2 linked regions of the Homo sapiens genome follow. The protein of the gene in region 1 purifies or fractionates together with the protein of each later gene. This does not show direct contact. Each region holds a gene or a part of one and is shown on either strand. Other genes may lie near its edges.

Region 1 (12,681 bases):
TAATGAAGAGCGCCTGTTAGATTTTAATAGGGTAAGTGGACTGTCCTCCTCCTCGTCATTAACTTACAAACAGCCACCACCTCCAGTTGTCACTGTAGTCAAAAACCTGGGAGTCATGTGAGTGGACCCCACCTCTCCCAGGAACCAGCCAGGCCTGTGGGTGCAGACTTCCTGTTCTCTGGCCTTTGTTCTGAGTCTGCATTCTCCCCCGCTTCCAAACCCCCTTGACTGTTGACTGCCAGTGCTTCCTGAAGAATCCCCAGCTCTCTCCCCAGTCTTGGCTCTACACTACTGCCCGAGGGCATTGCATTACAAATGCAGAGCTGACCCTGTTGCTCCTTGGGTGGGCACACTTTTCATCTTTTTTTTTTTTGTTTACCTAATAAGTGGGAGACCTAGCCTTGTCCTCTTTGAAAGTGCACCCTGAGGCAGCCTTGCCAGTGTGCTTGTTGCCGCTGTCCCGGCTTCTGCAGAACGATCCCGCCCTTTCCGTGTCCTCCTGCACTCTGTGCACGACTCTTCTTGCTGTAGCCAGAGCATGTACTTGCGTTCCGTTTCTGCATGTCTGCCTCTTCCACAAGCCTGTGGGCACCACGAAGGCGGGAGCGGGGCCTCCGCCTGGTTTAGTCTCGTCTTAGACCTTCCCCGGTTAAGAGGCAGGCAGGCAAATGAACCTAAGGAAAATTCTTTTTATTTGGTGTGAATTGTCAGTGTATTAGGGTTCTCCAGAGGGACAGAACTAATGGAATAGGTATATATATACACAAAGGGGAGTTTATTAAGTATTAACTCACACGATCACAAGGTCCCACAATAGGCCATCTGCAAGCTGAGGAGGAAGGAGAGCCAGTCCCAGTCCCAGTCCCAAAACTGAAGAACTTGGAGTCCGATGTTCGAGGGCAGGAAGCATCCAGCATGGGAGAAGATGTAGGCTGGGAGGCTAGGCCAGTCTAGTCTTTTCACATTTTTCTGCCTGCTTTATATTCTAGCCACGCTGGCAGCTGACTAGATGGTGCCCACCCAGATGAAGGGTGGGTCTGCCTTTCCCAGCCCACTGGATCAAATGTTAATCTCCTTTGGCAACACCCCCACAGACACACCCAGGATCAGTACTTTGCATCCTTTAATCCAATCAAGTTGACACTCAGTATTAACCATAACAAGTCCACCCCTTGTCAATTTGAACCCATACACATCTCCTGAAATTATATGTAATCTTCAAATAAAGACAATAAGGTCATAATTATACCTAACATAATACAGCTATGCTTCATACAACCGGAAAAGCACCAATCCCAAACCCAAGTACTATTACATAGAGTTAACAATACTTAAATGCTGATATGAAGTCAATAAATCTTATGTCAGCCGGGCGCTGTGGCTCACGCTTGTAATCCCATCATTTTGGAAGGCCAAGGTGGGCAGATCACCTGAGGTCAGGAGTTCAAGACCAGCCTGGCCAACATGGCGAAACCCCATCTCTACTAAAAATACAAAAATTAGCCGGGCGTGATGGTGCACCCCTGTAATCCCAGCTACTTGGGAGGCTGAAGCTGGAGAATTGCTTGAACCCAGGAGGTAGAGATTGCAGTGAGCTGAGATCGCACCACTGCACTCCAGCCTGGGTGACAGAGCAAAACTCCATCATTCATTCATACATACATACATACATACATACATACATACATAAATATATACATACATAAATCTTGTGTCACATGATAAAGGACAAAAAATAAAATGAGATTTTCTTAGTACAAGTGTATACATGCACAAACGTGTTTTTAACGAAGGAGGAAATACTCCTCAAGACAATTACAGTCCTGGTTTCTGCACCTGGTCACATGGTCGTAGCTGGTATTGATGACTACCTTCTTCTACTACCCATTCTGTATTCCCTTTGCCTTCAGCAAGCACCTCAGCAGGTTGTGGTTTTTTCCCGGTGGAGTGACCTAAACCTTCATTCCTAAAGAGTCTGAGCCATTTGTATCCTGTCTGGACTGGGCTGTTGTAGTTTCCCGTTAACTTGAATCACACGGCATGTGATCAAGTTGACACTCAGTATTAACCATCTGTCAGTGTCCATTCAAGTCCTGTGAGAACTGTCTGCCCAAGCACCTGTAGCATCATCGTCCACGTCCTGCTGCCCACTGACCTGTCCGGCTCCACACATGAAGGCAGATGTTTGAGGCCCCCACCAGCTCTCTCCTCAGTGACTAGTTCACATCATCCCTCCAGCCTCAAACCCCAAACTGAGACATATTCCCCAGTCCTCTCTCTCATCTTCCACACACAGTCTGCCTGCCAGTCCTGACCGTTCCCCGCTGTCAGCCACTTCGCATCTCCCACTTCTCCTCCTCTCCATCATTACCACTTTGTTCAAGCCACTGTCCCTGCTCCTGAACAGCTGCCATGGTCTTTTCATTGTCCTTCCTGCTTTCGTCATCCTTTCCAGCCTTCTCTCCACACAGCAGACAGAATGACCTCACGAGCAGTATCTTGTTCAGTCCTCACAACGACCCTGTGAGGTAGGTACTGTTGTCATGCCTGTTCTGCAAAATAGGAAAGTGAAGCACAAAAACATCAGGCGCCGTGTATCCGAGGCCAGAGAGCCACAGCTTCAGTGTGGACCTGAACTCTGAACCTCAGCAGTCTGCCTCTAGGACCCATACTGCTAACCATGATGTCACTTTGCTGTTGCATTTGAGACAGATCCAAACTCCCCGCCACGCCTCTACAGCCCTGTATGTTTTGCCCCCGTCTGCCTTTGACCTCATCTGTCTCTGCTCTCCCCTTACTCTGTGTGGCTTTTCTGTGCTTCTGCCTCAGGGGTTCTCAACCAGGGGCAATGCTGCCATTTGGAAATGAGGTGGGAGTGCTGCTAGTTACTATGGCAGGGTGAGGGGAGCTTTGTAATGACTGTGACTGAGGAGGGGCCACCACTGCATCTCATGTCCTGGGGTCCAGAGATGCTGACCATCTGGTGTAGGGGAGACAGTCCGACACCACAGAGTGTTGGCACCTCTGCATGGCTGGCTTCTCAGCTGAGCGGGCCTCTTCTCCAAAGAACTCCCTTCCCAACACACCCATCTGCAGTGCCCCCCCTCACCATCTGTACTGTGTCACTGCAAACTCCCTTCCCAACACACAGGTCTGCAGTGTCCCCTCACCATCTGTACTGTGTCACTGCAAACTCCCTTCCCAACACACCCGTCTGCAGTGCCCCCTCACCATCTGTACTGTGTCACTGCAAACTCCCTTCCCAACACACAGGTCTGTAGTGTCGCCTCACCATCTGTACTGTGTCACTGCAAACTCCCTTCCCAACACAGAGGTCTGCAGTGTCCCCTCACCATCTGTACTGTGTCACTGCAAACTCCCTTCCCAACACACAGGTCTGTAGTGTCGCCTCACCATCTGTACTGTGTCACTGCAAACTCCCTTCCCAACACAGAGGTCTGCAGTGTCCCCTCACCATCTGTACTGTGTCACTGCAAACTCCCTTCCCAACACAGAGGTCTGCAGTGTCCCCTCACCATCTGTACTGTGTCACTGCAAACTCCCTTCCCAACACACAGGTCTGTAGTGTCGCCTCACCATCTGTACTGTGTCACTGCAAACTCCCTTCCCAACACACCCGTCTGCAGTGCCCCCCTCACCATCGGTACTGTGTCACTGCAACTGGCACATGTTGGTTTGCTCGTTCATCTCCCCAGCGAGCCTGGCATGCGCCTTCCACTGCTGGAGTCCCTGTGCCCAGTAAAGTTCCTGGTGCATAGCAGGTACTCAAAGACTTTGAAAATGAAATAATTCTTTATCCTACCCTAACATGGCTAACATTTTGTCCAAGTGACTGAACATGTGGAATTAGGATTTTGGATCCTTCATGGATCAGAGAAGAGAGGCGGTTTTGCTCTGAAACAGTAAAACTCTGCATGTTTGTAACTCCACAGGAAAACACTGATGATTTATTATTTCTTCTTTGTATATAGATAGAGTATCTCACCCTTTTGGGGAAAAAAAAGTCTTTTTGATGTGTTGAAAATTGTTTTAATCTTAGGTGTCTTCTGTTTATGAAGCAAGATGTACAGGAGAGAGAGATTCTGGAGCAAAGTCAGATGGCTTCCGCGGAAAGATGTGCTCCAGCGCCAGCTCCACCTCGGAAGAGACAGGCTCAGAAGGCGGAGGCGAGTGGGTGGGCCCTAGTGAAGAGGAGCTCTTTTCTCGAACTCATCTCTAAACCTGCAAAATAGTACAAATTATTGTTTAAAAATGATATGTGATGGAAAATTACTCTTCAGTGAGACCTGTTAATCTAAAACAACAACTTAGGTTTCCTCTTCAATTAACTGATTCAGATTGGTAATAATTATCTTTCTCTTCTTGCTTATTTTAGAGTTGAGGACAGCTATCCTGTTAAAGATTTTTTTTCCCAGCTGTTAAATTCTTGGCTATTTGAAATAGACTAGATTGTGTTGTCAAATCAAGAATGGGTGTGCATGTGCTTGTCTTAGAAGTATCACTGCTTTTTGCATCTTAACTGCAGTTAATTTTCCTTCCGACTGCGGTTATATCACTATGACCTTACTAGCATTGCAGTGTCAACAACCACTTCTGCTCTTCAGAGACTTCAGCTTTGGAGCATTTAGGCTTTGTTCTCCAAGAACTGGGATATCCATTCTTACCCTACAGTGGCTTGATGCCTTTCTGAAGGCGAGAGGGAAGCCTGGGTGACTCAGCGGTGGTCTCCATTCAGCAAAATCTCATGTACATTTCCAGTAGGAACCGCAGAGGTGTGCTTTTCAAGACTCACCAAATACTGTGTTTTCTCTCTTAGGATTTCTTTTCCCCTAAAGTATCACGGAAGATACTATGGTTCGTGACTTTCTTGCTAACTGAAGAAGCCAAGGATTTGGGGTGTGGGGTCGTATGCGAGACACAGTGGGGTAAGGGTGCATACCCCACCCCTTACCTGCTCTCATACTGCAGTTACATTTACACCAAAACCCCATGCAGGGTTCTTTGTGGTGAGTGTTCCATACGTGCTAAGGACCTTAGTTACAGATTGTTACTTTCTGGTGACCTATGTTGAATTGAAACCCCCAAAACTTGAAATTGTGAACATTTGACATGCAGTAAAGGCCACCTCATCACCCAGAGAAATCTTTGGCTGCTGCAGCTAGCCGCTTCTTGGCTGTGATGTAGTATAGCTTCGATCTCATTTTGTGTTTGAGAGAATGTTCTGGGCAAGTTCTGTGTGTGGTGGGTTGGGGCGGGTAGAGTCATGAGTTTTCCACATCCCTGTGTGGTGGTTTTGCTGACTGTCGCTCCGTGGGACTGGCTCCCGTTTCTCCTTGGTGAGCCCGGGGAGCCGGCGCATCTTGTGAGTCGCGTCTGTGCATGGCGATCCGCTCCTCCGGCTCTCATGGCATTGTGCCACAGGCAGAGGCCAGGAGGAGCAGTATGTGCACAGCCGAAACATTTTACATTTTTTACATTGTTTTTCTTTTTTAACCAACTCATTGTTTAAAAAACAAAAACAAAAAAAACCTAATCTGTGAAATCAGCGTAGCATGCCTGGAGCATCAGGAATGGCAGAAAAGTCTGATGCGCTCTAGACAGCTTCACCACTCATTTGGGCAGGCAGTAAACACACATATAATTTATTAGCTGGGAGCTGAACTGGCTGTGAAATCTATGATTTGCTTTGAACATTTGGGTTTTGTTGCCTTTTTCTTAATTGATAACACAGAAAAGAAAGTACCATCAAAGACTGTGGAGTCATTGAGGGTCTGTGTGTCCTCACCGAGAGGGACCTGGTGTGCCCGCCGGGTCGATCTTCCCACGTGTTAGGGTTTATTTTTATACAACACATTTTTTGACACTTTAAGGTGGGTGGGTGTGTGTGTGTGTGTGTGTGTGCGCGCGTGCGCGCGCGCATGTGTAAGGTTTTATGTTGCTGTTATTTATTTACGAACTTCAGATACGTTTTTATGTATTTTTCATTCTTCTGGAGCTTCCTAAAAATTGATAAGCATCTGCACTGAAATATAATTTAACAGCAAAAGTAAAAAAGGATTGAAAGTTGTAAATTCCTCATATCACTACAGTGACGATTATTCTAGAAATCGTTGCTTGTGTAGCAAAGACCAAATAAATAGATTTCAGACACAACCTTGAGCACAGTTGATTTTGGACAGCTGCTGTTTATTAGGAAAGGGCTCCAGGTGGCAAAGGTGCACACTTCCTCAGACACAGGTGAGAAGATGCAGCACCTTCCACAGGTGAATGGGACGGATTCGAAGTGAGCAAAGGGATTCACAAATTATGTATTTATTTGTTTTCATAGTTAAGTAGCTGAAGCTCAGAGGCTTTCAGCAACAGAGATGAAAGTGTGGCTTTTTAGTTTTGTGAATGGATGATCACAAAGAAAAAGCATTTTTAAAAAGTTGGCAAACGCTGAAACGCACTGTGGTATGAAGCGCATTGCATTTCCATAGCACTGAAGTACCAGTTTCCATTCCTGGGCTGAGATTGTTTTTCCCGTGGTTGTATTGTTCTGATTTCACGTACACCAGAGTAACTGATTTTTTTTTGTTTGTTTTCTTGTGGAGTTAACACCAAATAAAAATTGTAAAAAACAGTTTGTTGTTTTTATTTCTCATAGCAAAGCTTCTTTTGTAAAGAACTCCAGCTTCCTTTTACTCATGAGCATCCGTGGAAGAGCAAGTGCCCAGGTTACATTTGTTCTAGATGGAGGTCATTTAGCTCTCATTGCAGACACTGCTGAAAACATTGTGCAGCTTTGCTAGGGAAGAAAGTGGTGTGGCCTGCTGAGAAATCAGCGGCTCCTCCCCATCTCACCCCCAGCACACGCAGGGACTACTACCTGAGTCTGCAAAACACATAGCATTTTTGTCCGTGGATGGTACACAAAGCTCAATCTTTTTGTTTTCTTCTGGGGAAAAAATTAAATCTTTATATGTTAATATGATTGATATTCATTGTGCAAAAAAAATCAGTGTGTTTTTAAAGAAGTATAAGGGAAAAGGAAAACTCATATGTCCTTCTGTCACTCTGAGACATACACTGGTAACATCTGTGCAAGCCCCTTTCCAGGATTCTGAATGTACAGTATATATGAATGCATACACAGAGAAATTTACATTCAAGAGTGTACTATACTTGTTCTTCTATAACATCAGAAATAGGTTTTTACTCAGATGTCTTCATGTCGGTAATTATAGAACTACATAATTATTTTTATAGCTGTATTATGTAGATTTAACAGGTTCCTCATTGATAAAACAATGTTTTTTTGGTTGTTTATTCAGTATCTGAATAACGTTTCTATGGACATCTGTAAACATGTATGAGGGGACTTTTAAAAGTTCATGGAAAATGGAATTAAAAGAAAAATAAAAAAATATAAACTTTATTTCTCAACATAAGTTCCATCAAGTTCAAGATACTACTATAAGACATAATACCAACCATTCAGTCTATCCCTAAAGAACTGAGGCTCCTGGAAATTTCACCTTGTCAGTGTAGTCTCTGCATTGTGAACTGAAGAGAAATGGGTGCCCTTTACAGCTTTTTAAGATTAGGAAACAAAAAGTCAGAAGAAGCCCAATCAGGACTGCAAAGTGGATGCCTGATGATTTCCCATCAAAACTCTTGGAAAATGGCTCTCGTTTGCTGAGAGGAATGAGCAGGAGGAGCACTGTCATGGTGGAAAAGGGCTCTGGTGAAACTTTCCTAGGCATTGTTCTGCCACAGCTTTGGCTAACTTTCTCAAAACACTCGTCATAAGCAGATGTTAACATTCTTTGGGCATCTGGAAAGTCAGCACATACACAGTGCTTTGAGCATCCCAGAAAATGGTTGCCTGGCCTCTGCTTTTGACCAGTCTGCATTTGCTATGAGGAGACCCCTCCCACCTCTCGGTAGCCAGTGCTGTGATCACAATCACATTGTCTTCAGGATTGTGCTGGTAAAGCCATGTTCCATCTCCTGTTACAGTTCTCAGAGGAAATGCTTTAGGATGTTGATTCCTCTTGTTGAAAGTTTCCCCTGAAAGCTCTGCTGCTGTCTCCAGCTGATCTGAGTGCAGTGGTTTGGTAGCCATTGAGTGGCAAGTTTGCTCAACGTTAATTTTTCAGTCAGATCGTGTAAGCTGAACCATCTGAGGTGTCTGTGGTGTTGGGTGTTGTTTCTGCTGTTAATCATTGGTCCTCTTTGATTCAGGCATGAATAAGATTAATTTTTTCCTCACAAATTGATGAGGAGGTCTTCACCATTGTCTCATCCCTTCTTAAAACAAGTTACCCATTGGCAAACCTCTGATTTTGGCTGGGGGCGGGGCATTGTCCCCATAAGCTTTTTTGTAAAAAAATCATTGATTTTGGGCCAGGTGTGGTGGCTCACGCTTGTATTCCTAGCACTTTGGGAGGCTGAGGTGGGTGGATCACGAGGTCAGGAGATCGAGACCATCCTGGCCAACATGGTGAAACCCTGTCTTTATTAAAAATACAAAAAAATTAGCCAGGCGTGGTGGCATGTGCCTGTAGTCCCAGCTACTCAGGAGGCTGAGGCAAGAGAATTGCTTGAACCTGAGAGGCGGAAGCTGCAGTGAGCCGAGATCACGCCACTGCACTCCAGCCTGGGCAACAGAGCGAGACTCTGTCTCAGGAAAAAAAAAAAAAAAAATCACTGATCTCACCATTCTTCCACCCAAGCATCACCATAAATTTGATGTCCTTGCTTCCATTTTTAGCAGAATTCATGTTGCTCTGATAGGTGCTCTTTTCAAACAGTCATACCCTTCTTAGTGCCTCAAAGTAGATCTTAAGACATGTTATAACAAGTTAGTACAAGTTTATTTTGGTGCAAAAAATTTTTGAAATCTGTGCATAGCTCCTTTTTGGAGACAGTCTCACTGTGTCACCTAGGCTGGAGTGCAGTGGCATGATCACTGTCATCTCAAACTCCTGGGCCTAGTGATCCTCCTGCCTCAGCCTCCCTAATAGCTGGGACTATAAGCACACCTCACCATGCCCAGCTCATTTTTTAATTTTTTGTAGGAACAGGGTTGCCCAGGCTGGTCTCAATTACTTGGCCTCAATCCATCCTCCTCACCTCAGCCTCCCAAAGTGCTGGGATTACAGGCCTGAGCCATTGCACCTGGCAATAGCACAGGCCCTAAAGGATGTAGTTGGCCCACCCCCCAACACCATTTTTAAAGTCCTTACCCCACCGATTTGCAGGAGTGCAGTGATGTCATCTCGGTTCACTGCAGCCTCCACCTCCCGGAGCTCAGGCAGTCCTCCCCTCTCGGGCCAGGAATTCTGACACCACAGCTAAGTATTTTTAGAACAGCCCGGGGTGGAGTGTAAAGGCTTCTGCCTTTTTCACTGAAAGTGCTCTGGCCACTGCCCTGTGTGCCTGCTGCTGCTGCCACTACAGATGCCACTCTGGCCATGAGTGGCTGTGGCAGTGCCCAGGAGGCCTGCATCTACCAGCAGTCCAGGAACAGAAAGGAAGCCCCTGCCCCTGGTTCCTCTTGAAAGCAGCCAGTCGGATGGCGTCACAAGCTGGCCACTGTTGTGAACGCAGAGATTAGGAAATGAGCTGTCGTTTCAGAGCCCGCTGCTAGCCTTGTGCCACTGGTGTGGTTAATTAATAGCATGTTCAGGGACGGTTGCCTCAATTATCAAGCTGGTAATGATGCTGCCACCTAACGTTTGGTTGGCGTTGCTATTGTCTGTGCTAGTCATAGTCAACAGCTGACACTGAGGGCTTACTGGCTGCCACGCATTCTAAGCGCTCTTGAGTGTTAACTAGCAACCCTATGAGGGAGCTACAGCTGCTCTGTTTTACAGATGAGTAAACTGAGGCACAATGGGGCATTAGGCACTTGCAGTCTCACACTTGGTGGATGCTGGAGCCCGAATTCACCTTGGGCACTGACTGCAGAGTCCATTTAACACTGAAACCTCCATCTCACAAAATCCCACTCATTAAGTTACGTATTGTCTCTGGGCACGGTGGCTCATGCCTGTTAACCCAGCACTTTGGGAGGCCAAGGTGGGCGGATCACCTGAGGTCAGGAGTTCCGAGACCAACCTGGCCAACATGGTGAAACCCCGTCTCTACTAAAACTACAAAAATTAGCCAGGCATAATGACAGGCGCCTGTAATCCCAGCTACTCCGGAGGCTGAGGCAGGAGAATCACTTGAACCCGGGAGGCAGAGGTTGTGGTGATCTGAGATCGCGCCACTGCACTCCAGCCTGGGTGACAGCAAGACTCCGTCTCAAAAAAAAAAGTTATGTATTGTCTGCGTACTTGCAGGGAGTCCTGCTGTGTCAGCCCCGGCTGTGTGTCCTTGGGCGAGTTACTCAGTCTCACACGTTGGTATCTTTAGATGTAAATGGAGATCATAACTGGACCTCTCTCCTAAGGGTTGGTTATAAACATAAAATAGTCCATCTGCATAAATACTAGAGTGCAAACTAAAAAGTACCTGAGACAGACCTCAATTAATTTAGAAGTGTATTTTGCCAAGACTCAGGACACACCTGAGAGAGAGAGGTCTGTGCCTTTCTCCAAAGATGATTTTGAGAGCTTCTGTATTTAAAGGGGAAAAGTGGGCTGGAGGGGGAAGGGGGAGGGTGTGGTCACACGACTGAATCCACAGGTTGCGAGAGAAAAGGAGCAGGTAGGGGAGTAGTCAATTAGGTATTTGACTTGTACGCACTAAATCCTCACTTTACGTAAGATACAGTGAACACAGAGTAGCTACCTGTGGAGATAGCTGGCCTTTTTGTTTTGTTTTGTTTTTTGGACAGGATCTCACGCTTACCCAGGATGGAGTGCAGTGGCGTGATCTCGATCTTGGCTCACTGCAGCCTCAGCCTCCCGAGTAGCTGGAACCACAGGTGTGCGCCACCACACCCAGCTAATTTTTGTATTTTTTGTAGACAGAGGTTTCACCATGCTGCCCAGGCTGGCCGTGAATTCTTGGGCTCAAGCAATGCTTCCACCTCGGCCTTTCAAAGTGCTGGGATTACAGTCGTGAAGCCACCGTGCCTGGCCTGTCTGGCCCTTTCGCTGTAGCTATCTGCTTAAGAACATAAGGAAACGCAGCTTCTTGCATGAGTCTATTCTCATCTTAAGTATTTCCTTTTAGCACAGTGAATTACGGTCCCACGTTTTTATTTTCCTTTCACACTGGACTCAAAAAAAGCAAAAACGGAAATGCAAAAGAGAAGTTGCAGCACTGAGTCCAGTAACTAAGGAGACAGTTGCCTCTTTGCAGGCGGTCTCTCACTCCCTGCCCTCCCCCCTGTGCTAGCAGAGCCCTTTAAGGGCCCTTGTTGGATCTGCAGCTCCAGGCCTGCCTAGTCAGCGGGGGTCAGCAGGGGTCAGCCCCACAGAGGCCATTCATCCTTGAGTGCTGACCACAGTGCTGTCACCATGATCTCGCCCTGAAGGGAGGTCACGCTATCCCTTCGACACAGGAGACCAACTCCTTTGGCTGTCCTTGGCTCCCAGTGGTGGCTGAACCAGAGGGCAGGGGCCAGGGCAGCAGCAGAGCCAAGTGTGCCCACTGGGGCCGAGGGCTCTGGCCACCACGTCCGTTGGGGAGGATGGTGGGGAGGGCCCTGGCCTTGCAGCGAGGGGGCAGGCACACGGTCTCCCACTTCCTATCACAGTCCAGGGGTGGGGAGGACCCCACCCTCTGGCCCTGTCACAGGTGGGGACAGTGACCCTCCCCTTCCAGGTGAGGCTACATTTTGAGGCTGAGGAGCACACGAAATGCTGGTCCTCAGCAGCGCTAAGGCCAGGAGCCCCTGATGTGTGAGTTTGTGTGGGGATGTTGCCCCTGAGGAGGGGTGATAGGAAGAGCCCCCTCCTCGTGAGCTGTGACCCTGAGCCAGTGGCTCTCTCAACTGTGAGATGGGGACCCTTCTCCCTCCCAGGGCTAGGGGAGGAGAACTGGCAGGCAAAGTGTCCGCTCATTTCCCTGAATAGAATACAGGCTCCCTCCTGAGGGTTTCTTGCCGTCCCCACGTGGTCCCTCCCAGCCCTCACAGTGGGCACCAGCAGTGCTGTCCCTCCTGCCCGGGGCCCTAGAGGGAGGAGGAAGACGTGAGTCCTGGGACTGGGCAGGGAGACAGGTCAGTCCCCGCTCCACGAGTTCCTGGAGCCCTCGGGTCTACCCTGCTCTGACCGAGCTGCTATGGGTAGAGCAGATCTACCTACGGCCCATCATCTCTGCGTCTTTCCCAGCAGTCTCAGGGTGTCTGTCACCGAGGCTGAGAACCCAAAGTTCTGGCCCAGGAGCACCCGGCAGAGGTGTGAGCCGGGGTCTGCCGATGGCTCATCTGATTCCCAAGTGCAGTGCTGCTTTCCCACTACCGTGGCCTCCACAAACCAGCGCTGTGCCCCCGCTACCGCCGCCACTCCCAGGGGGCCAAGTCCCACACCTTCAGACCCTCAAGACGGGAGCCGGAAGCCACCGCGGAACTAAAGTCTGGGAACCCCCCTTGGGGCGCTCAGGATTCACCCGCGCATGTGGCTGGGCACAGGCCTGTCCTCCAGGAGACTGCAGGCTGGGGACCCAAGGGTGACACCACAGGCTGCCCGCGCTTTGTGCGCAAAGCCAGGAGCGCTCTTC
Region 2 (12,681 bases), on another chromosome or scaffold:
TTGCTAAACAATAATAAGAACTCTGATTTCTGTGCTCCCCTGACCTCCTTTGACTGGAATGAGGTGGATCCTTATCTTTTAGGTAAGGGAGTTAGGGAGTATGTATTTCAGCTGGAAGAAGCCAAAATAAATTTTCTCAGATGTCACACTGGGCCATACATCCTAGAACAAGGCTCAGTGGGAAGTAGGCTAGGCGTGGAATGTGGTTATTTATTAATTCCTTTGTGTGGGTGAGCTTTCCGTGTGTATAGATCTTGTCTCTCCAGTTAGAATCTAAGGTCCTACGGTGAGGACTGAAGACTTGACTGCCTCGGTGGCTCTGCCGGTAGCCCCCACCTTGTTTTCTGTAGTCTTTATGGTATGCTGCTCCCTGGGCTGAGCAGATGAGTAAACACAAGAGGGAAGCTTGCATGAGAACCTTGGTCCCGTCAGCCCTGACTTGCACTGGTTGTTTGCAGGTACCTCAAGCATTGATACGACATGCACCATCTGGGGGCTGGAGACAGGGCAGGTGTTAGGGCGAGTGAATCTCGTGTCTGGCCACGTGAAGACCCAGCTGATCGCCCATGACAAAGAGGTAAGATGCTTTTCCATTTCGTCTTTCCTCAAATGCTTCCTGTGCCTTCCGCACAGGAAGAGGTCAGCTTGTTCTCTCATTGTTCTGCAATTTATGTAGAAAATCATAACATAACATCTTCTTGTCTAAATTGACAATAGTAATGTATCAAAAACGGGAAAACAACACTATTGTAAACTAATGCTTTTTTTTGGCTAATGTAAATGACCTATTCTACGGTCTGTCATTGTTCTTTTCATGCCAGAGGTTGCTTTTTTTAAATAACAAAGTCTCTTATAGAGGAGCTGGGAACTGATGTGATTAAAAAATAACTTTAGAGTAATACTTATCTTGAAACAGATTAGATTTGGGGAGGAAAGAAGGGAGACAGGAAGAGAAAAAATTTTCTGAGAGACAAACGTAATTATTCATTTTTCTCTATAAATGTTTTACCAAATCCTAGTATGTTCACTTAATCTTTATACTTTCATTACTGTTGGCAGTGGAGGCAATGGAATATATTTTATTTTGATGGCGATGCTTCTGTGTTTATTGGGAAAACTGAGAAGAGCTATTTGTGATTGCTTTTTTTTTTTTTTTTTTTTTTTTTTTTGAGACAAAGTTTTCCTCTTGTTGCCCAGGCTGGAGTGCAATGGCGCAATCTGGGCTCACTGCATCCTCTGCCTTCTGGGTTCAAGCAATTCTCCTGCCTCAGCTTCCGGAGTAGCTGAGATTACAGGTGCCCGCAACCACCCCTGGCTAATTTTTGTATTTTTTAGCAGAGACAGGGTTTCACCATGTTGGCCAGGATTGTCTCGAACTCTCCTGACCTCAGGTGATCCACCCACCTTGGCCTCCCAAAGTGCTGGGATTACAGGCGTGAGCCACTGCGCCCGGCCAATTGCATTTTAATCAAAGCATTCTTCTCAGTGATTTTGGAAAATCCCCATAAGTCTTTTCCTCCTACAGCCATTGCATGCTCCTGGTACTCTCATCTCCTGTGGGTACTATTTCCTGTTCTTTTCTACCTTACCCTGCACAGCTAGGGGTATTAATATCTATACAGATAAAAGGAATGCCTTGATCTTAGGTCAGAAACTTGAGGTTGTCAACAGCATAGGAAGATGTGACCCAGGTTATCATTCTTAGTAAGGGGTTGTCTTTGGCTTTCTGTACTCCTGAAGGTAAGCCCTGTTACAAGACTTCTAGAGTTGACTGCTGCTAAACCAGGGGTCAAATGAAGAGTTTGTCCCACAGAGAGGACCAGTAAGGAACTTCTGGAAACCCTCTTGGCATCAAGTTGAACAAGCGGCTACATTTTAGTTATATGACAACTTAGCCTGCTGTTGTCTGTTAGGTCCAACCCAGAAAATGGGAACTACTCTTAAGTATTTGAACTGCAGGGATTTAATCCAGGGGCTGCTTATACAGAAGATGGTAAAGCTGAGAAGCCACATAGGTAGCAGTGAGGTCATCCATAGAATGGGAGCAGCAGGAAGCTGCAGCTGCCTATAGGCCAGAGGGACCATGGGAGGAGGCAGGGTTCCTGGAGCCCAGGGGCTGGATTTACCTGGCAGAGACGCTTCTAGGAACAGAGAGAGGGGAGGAGAAATACCTTAGCTTTTCCCTGCCTCCCATCATCCATTTTCCCACCAAAGCCTCCCATGGCTGAACCAGCCAGAAGCAGCCAGCAGATCTGAGACCCTGCCAAATGCACGCTGTAGGAATCAGTTCTCTTGTGACACAGAGAAGAAGAGCAGGGAGAAAGGCCAGGAATGGATCTTGACAGCAGACAGGCCTGGACCGGCAGCCTTGTCTTGAAGGAATAAACCTGAGAAAGGATAGTGGCTCTAGAGAAACAGTAATAGCACCTTTCTAGCACCTTTGATTTTTCTCAGTCCACCTTTCTCTAGGAAAAGACTTGTTTGGAAGGCTCTCATTGATACCTGGCAGATCAGTGTAGAAGAGGGTTTAGTGTACTTGGGAGTTGTCACCTTCCCTTGGTTTCCCAGTGAACCATGCTAGCGGAGCACTGAAGGAGCAGTCACTTAGAGCCGAGAGAGCATTACACACTCAGCCACGCTGCCCATGGCACCTGTGGGATCTCTGTCCCTGAGGGTTACCAGGAGCTGTCATTGGGGGGTATACATATTGATAAACATGGCTGTGCCTTAAAGCAGCTGTACAGTACTAGAGAAAGCCTCGATCTGTCAGGCACGTCAGGCCTGAGTGCCTCCTTGTTGATGACTGGCCCGGTCCCTTTTGAACCACTTCTACTTCCTGCCATAGAAAGACAAGCATAATTTCTTCATAGCCAGAAAAAAAAGGAATTCGTGAGGTTAAATAGCAATAGATGCTCATTTGGCAGTGCCCCTCTGTAGGCAGAACTTCAACACTGGAGCTGTAATATTTAGTGAGAAATTCTAGTCGTGTCTCCCCAGAAGTCAGCTGTTATTATCCCCAGAAGATGAGTTTTGTTTGGCATTAGTTTTTCTGTTTCTCTCTCTATTTGTCTGTCTCTGGCTCTCTCTTCGTCCCTCTTCGTCCTCTTTTTTTTTTTTTCTTTAAGACAGAGTTTCGCTCTGTCCCAGGCTGGAGTGCAATGGCCTGATCTCAGCTCACTGTAATCTCCGCCTCCCGGGTTCAAGCGATTCTCCTGCCTTAGCCTCCCATGTAGCTGGGATTACCGGCACCAGACACCACACTCAGCTAATTTTTTTGTATTTTTAGTAGAGATGGGGTTTCACTGGGTTGGCCCGGATGGTCTTGATCTCTTGACCTTGTGATCCGCCCGCCTCAGCCTCCCAAAGTGCTGGGATTACAGGTGTAATCCGCACCCGGCCTTCGTCCTTTCTCTGAAGCTCTCCGTTGCTCTCTGCCTCTGTTTCCTCATAGACGTTAGTGATATGCAATGTTTGCAGCAAATAAAAGCAGAAAACAGTGATTCAGAACCTAAATTGATTCACTTATGATCTCAAACCAACTAGGAGAAGAAAAAACATGTCCTAGGACAAGCGGGTGCTACTAACCTATTTGTGAATACAGGAACATCTAGGCCTCCCGTGACTCAAAATTTCTGTTACCTCTTTCTTGCAAATGAGTCTCAGGTCCAGGTTTCACAGAATCAGCTTGGCTGCTATTAAGTGGCCACAGGAGGGCTGCTTTCACCTCTGTGATTGATGATCTAGGCCTTAATGAGCTCGTAGACCTGCCTCTGATTGTGCACAAGGCCCAGGAAATAAGTGTCTCATTCTTGTTGTGTGGCAGAAGACAGCCACTGTTCTGTTGGTCAGCAGGGCATGTGCCTTTGTTTTATCACGGGTTGGAGGAAGAAGACTTGGAAAGCAGGAATGTGGGAAGAAGCCAGCCAATTTCTATAGCAGAATGATCTTCCATCTTTGGGAAGCCACTGATATTAGAGCTCTCGGGTTTCAGTACTCACAGACACTGTTTGGGCTTCATTTATCTGCTTTTGTGTCATGAGCGAGGTTTAGATGAACTGGACGTGGCAGATTTCCCTCCTATAGGAAGAAGAGGTAATGGATCTGAATCTGACTGGAGCTTCTTGTTCACCAACAGGTCTATGATATTGCATTTAGCCGGGCCGGGGGTGGCAGGGACATGTTTGCCTCTGTGGGTGCTGATGGCTCGGTGCGGATGTTTGACCTCCGCCATCTAGAACACAGCACCATCATTTACGAAGACCCACAGCATCACCCACTGCTTCGCCTCTGCTGGAACAAGCAGGACCCTAACTACCTGGCCACCATGGCCATGGATGGAATGGAGGTGAGCACTCCTCTCAGGCTACCATGGGCCCTGCCTAACTCCAGCACTGCTTAGTATATCTAGAAGGCTGGTTCTCAACTGGAGCAGTTTGGCTCCCGGAGTATCTTTGGGAATGTCTGGAGGCATTTTTGATTGTCACAGCTCTAGAGACGCAGTTGGTACTATGGCATCTAGGGGGTAGAGACCAGGGAGGCTGCTAAATATCCTACAGTGCCCAGGACAGTCCCCCAGCAAAGTATATCCTACCTAAAATGACAGCAGTCCCGGGACTGAGAAAGCCTAATCTGGAATAAGAATTACTTGTTAAGAACTTTTAATTTTTGAAGAGTTGGAGTTAGAGCCAGGAAAAGCAATATCTAAAGAGTAAACCAAATCGTATGTGCCTATGGTGCTGAGTGAAAAAGCAGATTTTCCCTTCTGTAGTCTGGACAGATTCATCTAGCTTTAGCAAACAGATGTAGAAATGGCAGCCCTCTGGCCGGGCGCTCTGGGTCACGCCTGTAATCCCAACACTTTGGGAGGCTGAGGCAGGTGGATCACGAGGTCAAGAGATGGAGACCATCCTGGCCAACATGGCGAAACCTCGTCTCTACTAAAAATACAAAAATTAGCTGGGTGTGGTGGCATACGCCTGTAGTTCCAGCTATTCGGGAGGCTGAGGCAAGAGAATTGTTTGAACCTGGTAGGCAGAGGTTGCAGTGAGCCAAGATCGTGCCATTGCACTCAAGCCTGGGAGATAGAGCAAGACTCCATCTGAAAAAAAAAAAAGGCCAGGCACGGTGGCTCACACCTGTAATCCCAGCACTTTGGGAGGCCAAGGTGGGCGGATCACAGGTCAGGAGATCAAGACCATCCTAGCTAACACGGTGAAACCCCGTCTCTGCTAAAAAAATACAAAAAATTAGCCGGGCGTGGTGTCAGGCACCTGTAGTCCCAGCTACTCGGGAGGCTGAGGCAGGAGAATAGCTTGAACCTGGGAAGCGGAGCTTGCAGTGAGCGGAGATCATGCCACTGCACTCCAGCCTGGTGACAGGGCATGCTCTGTCTCAAAAAAAAAGAAAAACAAATGGCAGCTCTCTCTAGTCTGTTACTTGATTAAAGAGGTGAATTGTGGGTGGGGAGAATGCATTGGTTGTCCTTGGTTTGGTGGCGCTAGCACCTCAGATTCTGCTTTGGCTGGGCTCTCATTCCATTCATCTGAGATGCATAGAATTCTTACCACATGCACCTGCTGGGACCCAGGATTACCCAGACTCCTGTTGTCTGTTTCTGCATCTCCCCTATCAGTCTAAAGGCCCAGTGTTGCTCAAGATAGAGACTATCAACTACCCGTGTCCTTTGTCTTCTTTTCCCTCAATCCTATGGAAATCCTGTCTCTAGTTCTTTAAATCCACAAATGAAAAATTATGCCTAAAAAGATTTTTGCATGTGGATAGTATTTTTTGTTTTTTTCTATGAAACTCTGATGATCCCAGGCCTTTTACTTGTTATTTCCGCAGGTGGTGATTCTAGATGTCCGGGTTCCCTGCACACCTGTCGCCAGGTTAAACAACCATCGAGCATGTGTCAATGGCATTGCTTGGGCCCCACATTCATCCTGCCACATCTGCACTGCAGGTAATCATGGTGGGGAGAAAGAAATCTGGGAAGGATGGAGGAAATCTGTTCTCTTGGCTCCTTAGAATTGTAGTTGTTACTGTTTTCTAAGCACAGTCTTGAGAGATTTATACAAAATGACTAGTTGGAGCCTCTCCACACTTGTGAAATTCAATCAGTACAAATTTTTAGACGATCTTGTACCCTCATGGACATCAGAACATCTTCCATATATGATTTACATCATGTGTCAGTTATAGGGCTGTGCCTTGTACTGTGCCCCTGAAATCTGGATGGCACAGAGGACTCAATTCCAGGAATATGGGGAAAGGGAGGCATCCCTCATGGATATAACAGAATCTTTGGGACTGTGAAGATCAACATCTCCATGGGACCTTTCAGGTTTCACTATAACAAACCCACAGTGTGCTCTGGATGCATCGGAGGGCCCCACAGAACTTTGCCTGGTTGTGGTTTGTGACTTGTGGTTTTCATTTCACTGTTTCCCAGACCAAAGCTAGCACCCCTTACGGGCTGGGTGCAGTGGTTCACGCCTGTAATCCCAGCACTTTGGGAGGCTGAGGCGGGTGGATCACCTGAGGTCAGGAGTTCGTGACCAGCCTGACAAACATGGTGAAACCCTGTCTCTACTAAAAATACAAAAAAAATTAGCCAGGCATGGTGGCACGCACCTGTAGTCCAAGCTACTTAGGAGGCTGAGGCAGGAGAAGCACTTCAACCCAGGAGGTGGAGGTTGCATTGACCAGAGATTATGCCACTGCCCTCCAGCCAGGGCAACAGAGCAAGACTCTGTCTCCAAAAAAAAAAAAAAAAAAAAAAAAGTACCCCTTAAAAATATGTTGGGCCAGGCACAGTGTTTCAGGCCTGTAATTGCAGCACTTTGGGAGGCTAAAGTGGGAGGATTGCTTGAGGCCAAGAGTTCAAGACCAGCCTGGGCAGTATAGTGAGACCTCATCTCTACAGAAAGTTAAAAAAAGACTATCTGGGTGTGGTGGTGAATTCCTGTAGTCCCAGCTACTTAGAGGCTGAGGTGAGAGGATCCCTTGAGCCCAGGAGTTTGAGGTTACAGTGAGCTGTGATTGTGCCACTGTACTCCAGCCTGGGCAACCAAGCAAGACCCTGCCTCTAAAATAAATTTTAAAAAAAGAAAAGAAAGGCTGGGTGCAGTGGCTCACATCTGTAATACCAGCACTTTGGGAGGCCGAGGCAGGTGGATCACGAGGTCAGGAGATCAAGACCATCCTGGCCAACATGGTGAAACCCTGTCTCTACTAAATACAAAAATTAGCTGGGCGTGGTGGCACATGCCTGTAGTCCCAGCTACTCGGGAGGCTGAGGCAGGAGAATCGCTTGAACCTGGGAGGTGGAGGTTGCAGTGAGCTGAGATCGTGCCACTACCCTCCAGCCTGGTGACAGAGTGAGACCCCGTCTCAAAAAAAAAAAAAGAAAAATATGCTGGTTGTCAATGCACTTTTATTGTAGAAATAATGCCAATCTGTTATTTAAATTGAAAACAGTACAGAAGCATATTTAAGAGCAAGGCGAAAGTCATCTTTTCTCCTTCCTATATCATTTCTGCCTCCATCCCCCTCTGCATAGATGACCTCTATCAACAGGTAATGTGTCTCCTTCCAGACCCTTTTGGTATACTTTCAGGGATGTACATCTATGCCCCCAAATACAACTATATACTTCTTCCTTTTGCACTGATAGGATTCTGTCCTAGTCCTGTGATGTTTTGCTCCTTAACTTTTTTAGTGTGTTTTTTTTCTTCTCCTCACTAATCAGGAGCCTTATAATGGACAAGGTTTGTTATGGAGCCCAAGAAGCAATGTACTCTGGTGTTTTTCTGCCATTTGAGCATTATTTGGAAGGCATGAAGCTTTTCCTGATTTTGGCCCTCTGCTCATGCCTGTATGTCTCCTTGAAGAGCAGCTGGGGGCCTGCTGCTGCCTTCTGTACCTCAGATTGTGGTCTGTCTTCTTCATTATTGCCCTCTTTTTTTTTTTTTCCCAGGGGTGTGGATAGGGAGGGATAGAAGAAGCAGAAAAGAAAGGTGTCATCCATTATTCATGGAAAGCAGGACTGGCCCCGTAGAAGCCCCATTTTCTGCTCCTGGCTGCTGCCTTTGTCTGGCTCGCTGTTGTTTTGTGTGTTGCACCTGCCTTGAGCCCCTTCAACCGAAGGAGCTGTTGCTCAAGTGTGCTCGGTTGAGCATTGAGGAAAAGGGCCTTAGTGCTCTAGAGGTGCAATTCCCTGACCTCTTGGCATTGATTGTCCCTGGGAGAGGGATCTTGCACCTGGCCCAGACTATGCGGCCTTGGCAGGAGACTAGTATTGCCCACAATTAGTCTATTAGGGTTTAGTTTATTCAGATTTTCTTTGTATCTGAGACCAGCTTTCATCAGAATGCATGGCAGAGTCAGGGTACACTGCAGCTCTGAAGGCCATTGCCTTATTTTTTTCTTTTTTAAAAATTAACTTACTATTTTGATTATAAAAGTAATATAGGCCAGGTGCGGTGGTTCATGCCTGTAATCCCAGCATTTTGGGAGGCCGAGGCAGGAGAATCGCTTGAACCTGGGAGGCTTTGGTTGCAGTGAGCCGAGATTGCACCATTGCACTCAAGCCTGGGCAACAGAATGAGACTCCATTTAAAAAAAAAAAAAAAAAAAAGTAATATGAGCACATTACGAATCACTTAGGAACTAGAGAAAAGTAAACATAAATCCTAACCTTGCCATCTTAGTATTGCCATCATTCTCATTTTAATATATTTCCTTCTACTTATTTTTCATGTGCTTTTATATATTTAAAGTGATTACCATCTTTCTGGTGTTTCCCATAGCTATTTTCTTGGATTTTTTTTTTTTTTTTGAGATGAAGTCTCACTCTGTCACCCATGCTGGAGTGCGGTGGTATGATCTCGGCTCACTGCAACCTCTGCCTCCCGAGTTAAAGCGATTCTCCTGCCTCAGCCACCGAAGTAGCTGGGATTACAGGTGTGTGCCACCACACCTGGCTAATTTGTATTTTTTTTTTTTTTTTAGTAGAGATGGGGTTTCACCATGTTGTCCAGGCTGGTCTTGAACTCCTGACCTCAGGTGATCCGCCTGCCTCAGCCTTCCAAAGTGTTGGGATTACAGGTGTGAGCCACCATGCCTGGCCAGGAAAGAATTTTTTAACAGCACATATCAGCACTACTTTATCAGTCTTCTATATAACACCTCACTGAAGCATAAATGTCCATCAAACAGGGAAGAAACGCTCTCATTATATTGAATGATCAGAGAATGATCTTTGTAACCACTCAAGTATTTTAAGTGGCTGCAAATGACATGTTTGGTATCCCCTTGTCCACTCCTGATACCTGACCCAGATGAGAAGGACTCATTAGTGCAGTGGATAGAGCCTGGGGACATCTGGGAGATGGAGTCAGGGCCTAGATTTGAGTTCTGGCTCTGCCACTCACTTGGCTGAATAGCTGTGTGATTTGGAACAAGTGCCTTAACATTTCTGAATCTCGATTTCCTCATCGATAAAATGGGGGCTTAAAATAGAACCGCCATCACGGGGGTGCTTTGTAAACTGTGACTTGCTCCTGAAATGCAGGGATCATCATCCGCATTGCCTCACTTGTGACCTTGCTTGCTGGCTTTCTTTGTCCCTAGCGGATGACCACCAGGCTCTCATCTGGGACATCCAGCAAATGCCCCGAGCCATTGAGGACCCTATCCTGGCCTACACAGCTGAAGGAGAGATCAACAATGTGCAGTGGGCATCAACTCAGCCCGACTGGATCGCCATCTGCTACAACAACTGCCTGGAGATACTCAGAGTGTAGTGTTGGTGGCGCTGTGCCCACGAGGCAGGGGCTTTTGTATTTCCTGCCTCTGCCCCACCCCCAAAGTAAGAAGAAACATGTTTCCAGTGGCCAGTATGTCTTTCATTGCTTTGCACCCACTGTTACCAGAAGCTGCTCTAGGAGTTCCTGGCCAGTCACCCCATCGCCCTCTGTGGCAGACTCAGTGCTGTGTGGCGCCTCCTCAGCCCAGGGCTGAGTTTTAAGATTTTCTCTCCTTTCCTCTTCTCCTTTGGTTCCTCAATTAAAAAATGTGTGTATATTTGTTTGTCAGGCGTTGTGTTGAGGAGCAGTTCACGCACTGGCTGTGTCTATTCCTCTGCCCAGGTGTCTCTGTTTGCTGCCCAAGGCAGCAGTTCATGTCTCGTCCATGTCCATGTTCGTGTTAGCACTTACGTGGGAACAAATACCAATTTGTCTTTTCTCCTAGTATCAGTGTGTTTAACAAATTTTAACTTTGTATATTTGTTATCTATCAGGCTAATTTTTTTATGAAAAGAATTTTACTCTCCTGCTTCATTTCTTTGTCTTATAGTCCTCCCTCTTTGCACCTTCTTCTCTTCCCTCAGTGCCTGGAGCTGGTACTGGGCCCCTGGCCCCATGAGCAGTTTGCCTTCTTGAGTCACTGCCTGTGTAGTACATACCTGACCGGGAGTCCAAACCACCTTGGTGCTCTGAAGTCCACTGACTCATCACACCTTTCTTAGCCTGGCTCCTCTCAAGGGCATTCTGGGCTTGTAAACAGACATAGGAAGCCTCTGTTTACCCTGAAGCACCACTGTCCAGCCCATTGGTTCCCACTGGCAGCATGGTAGAGCTGAGAGAAACAGGCTCTCAGGGTACCTGACTTGAGGGGAATCGTTTCATGAAGCTGAACTTCAAGCATATTTCCAGTACATTCTTTCAGAGTCTGTTTTTCCATCCAAATATAAGCCCCAGGCCATTCCACTTAGTGTCTTTTCAATGATAGGCAAGAATGATATCTGAGTTGAACTTCGGTGCTTCTGTTGTTTGAGTTTACTGTGCCTGGTGGTATATTGGGCATTCTTTGGATTGAGTGTTCTGAGGTGAGAGAGTCTTCCCGAGGCATCCTGTCTGTGCTTCCAACCCTGAACAAGACCTTACATGAGAGATGGACTGATGGACTGCGGCAATCCTGGGCTGTCAAGTGGATAGATAGTTAAAAAGCATTATACTGTGGGTAATGAAAAGGGAGGAAAAAAAAAGAAGGAAAAGGAATTATAGACCCCCAGGGTCAGCCAGTTAAGAGCTCTACCCACACCTGTCAACCCCTCTCTCCCCCAGTTTAGGTTCTGAGCAGTATTGGACTTGTAGCCTGCAGTTGTCTTTTGACTTGCAGGCCGCAGGTGTCTTTCTGTTATGTGAATGAGTTCCATGGAGGGGCATATGTGTGATTCCACCGTTAGATGAGCCCTTGGGGCAGGCAGTTTGGGATGTGCTCTTGGGGGAAAGTTGGCTGTTTCCTTGCGCTCTGCTCCTACCCGAAGGTTTTTAAGTCCCTCTGAATTGCTCATCTGAGATTAGTAGAGTAGCAGGCCTGAAGGATGATGGTTTTGTCCTCTTTGGTTCTCACCTGCTTGAGAAGTAAAACAGTAACTTTGTTCTTCTGGGCCCTTAAGCTTTTTTGGTTAAGTCTTCCTTTTCAGAAGTAGATGTCATTATATGCCAAAAGTCTAGCTCTTTGCTTTACCATACAGGGACCTGTCCCAAAGAAAAAGGCTCTTTTTTTAGCCAGCATATTTCCCCTTCTACCCTTTTACTTTGTTGTTCTGATTTTAGGACTCTGGCTGGCCATGTGCTTGTGGTTGCCTCTCCTGCATTTGCCACTGGATTTGCACTGCATCGTTTGGAGATACAAAGCGAGCAGTTCTTGGTCAGAACCCTCCTCTGCTTTTCATTGTGTTTGATAATGGTTACTGGGTCCTTCTCTCAAGGGTAGCAAGGCCAAGCTGATGGCTGCTTGTTTAGGAGGCCATCAGTTCCTTCCTGTGGAGAAGGGTCTGAAATGGAAGTCAGTGGTAGAAGGGGCTGGTCTGCTGGGCAGGGCTTACATCCACTGAGTTCTAAGATTCCTTTCCTGATCTGCACCTACGCCTGGTCTGTATGGTGGAATTTGTCAGCTGGAACTCAGAAACAACAACTTGAAAAAAAAATAATAATTAGAACATATTTGCATAAGATAGCTATTTACTCTGGAAACCAACAACTTTTGAGATTTCCCTTGCCCTGTGGACGCCCAGCTCCTGTCATCCTTCCTTAGGTCCTGCAGTACAGTCTTCCCCTGAATGCCACCGGGGACCCAGGGGGACTCCACCCCCCTAAGCAAGCACACACATACTCACAGTTGATGAGTTGCTGGTCTTTGAGTCCCAGCTCTCTTACCCTCCCTTTACTCCACCAGCCCGACGACCCATGACTGAGGAGGGGATTTCTACAGTCTCAGGATTTAGAAAGTCTGTAAGCCATCCATGCTCCAGAAAGCACCGATCTGTTGTAGTTGCAAAAACAACTCTGTAATTTGTTGAGGTTCTCAAACTGACAGCCAGCGAGACTGGGTGGGAGGCCCTGGATCTGTTCTCCCTGACTGCGGGAGGAGCAGCCACTAGGACTTTAGCAGGAAGCCCACATGGAGGCTCCGCCAGGCTGTGGCCCAGCTGGTGATGGCCCTTTTGCTCCTGGCAGCCTGAGGCACAGCTGCCTGTATTGTCCTCATCTGTTCTGACTGAAGGATGGAGGTGCTGAATAAATTAGGCCTCAGGCCTCTACCACCAGAGAGCTGGAGAATGGGTCCACGTCATTCAAGGACCTGAATTTTTTATGCTCAGGAGCATTGGAA

Evidence for each region.
Region 2: the proteins of KIAA0232 (region 1) and DCAF7 purify together in Homo sapiens (affinity purification with mass spectrometry; 2 studies listed by BioGRID and IntAct, with this or other methods). This does not show direct contact.

What each region holds. Positions count from the first base shown.
Region 1 is NC_000004.12:6,876,727-6,889,407, forward strand, and holds the end of KIAA0232 (uncharacterized protein KIAA0232), read left to right. Parts: coding exon 1-31; intron 32-4,060; coding exon 4,061-4,240; 3' UTR 4,241-7,438; downstream 7,439-12,681.
Region 2 is NC_000017.11:63,579,367-63,592,047, forward strand, and holds part of DCAF7 (DDB1- and CUL4-associated factor 7), read left to right. Parts: coding exon 1-82; intron 83-458; coding exon 459-577; intron 578-4,135; coding exon 4,136-4,345; intron 4,346-5,844; coding exon 5,845-5,962; intron 5,963-9,633; coding exon 9,634-9,806; 3' UTR 9,807-12,681. UniProt on the Homo sapiens protein: Involved in craniofacial development. Acts upstream of the EDN1 pathway and is required for formation of the upper jaw equivalent, the palatoquadrate. The activity required for EDN1 pathway function differs between the first and second arches.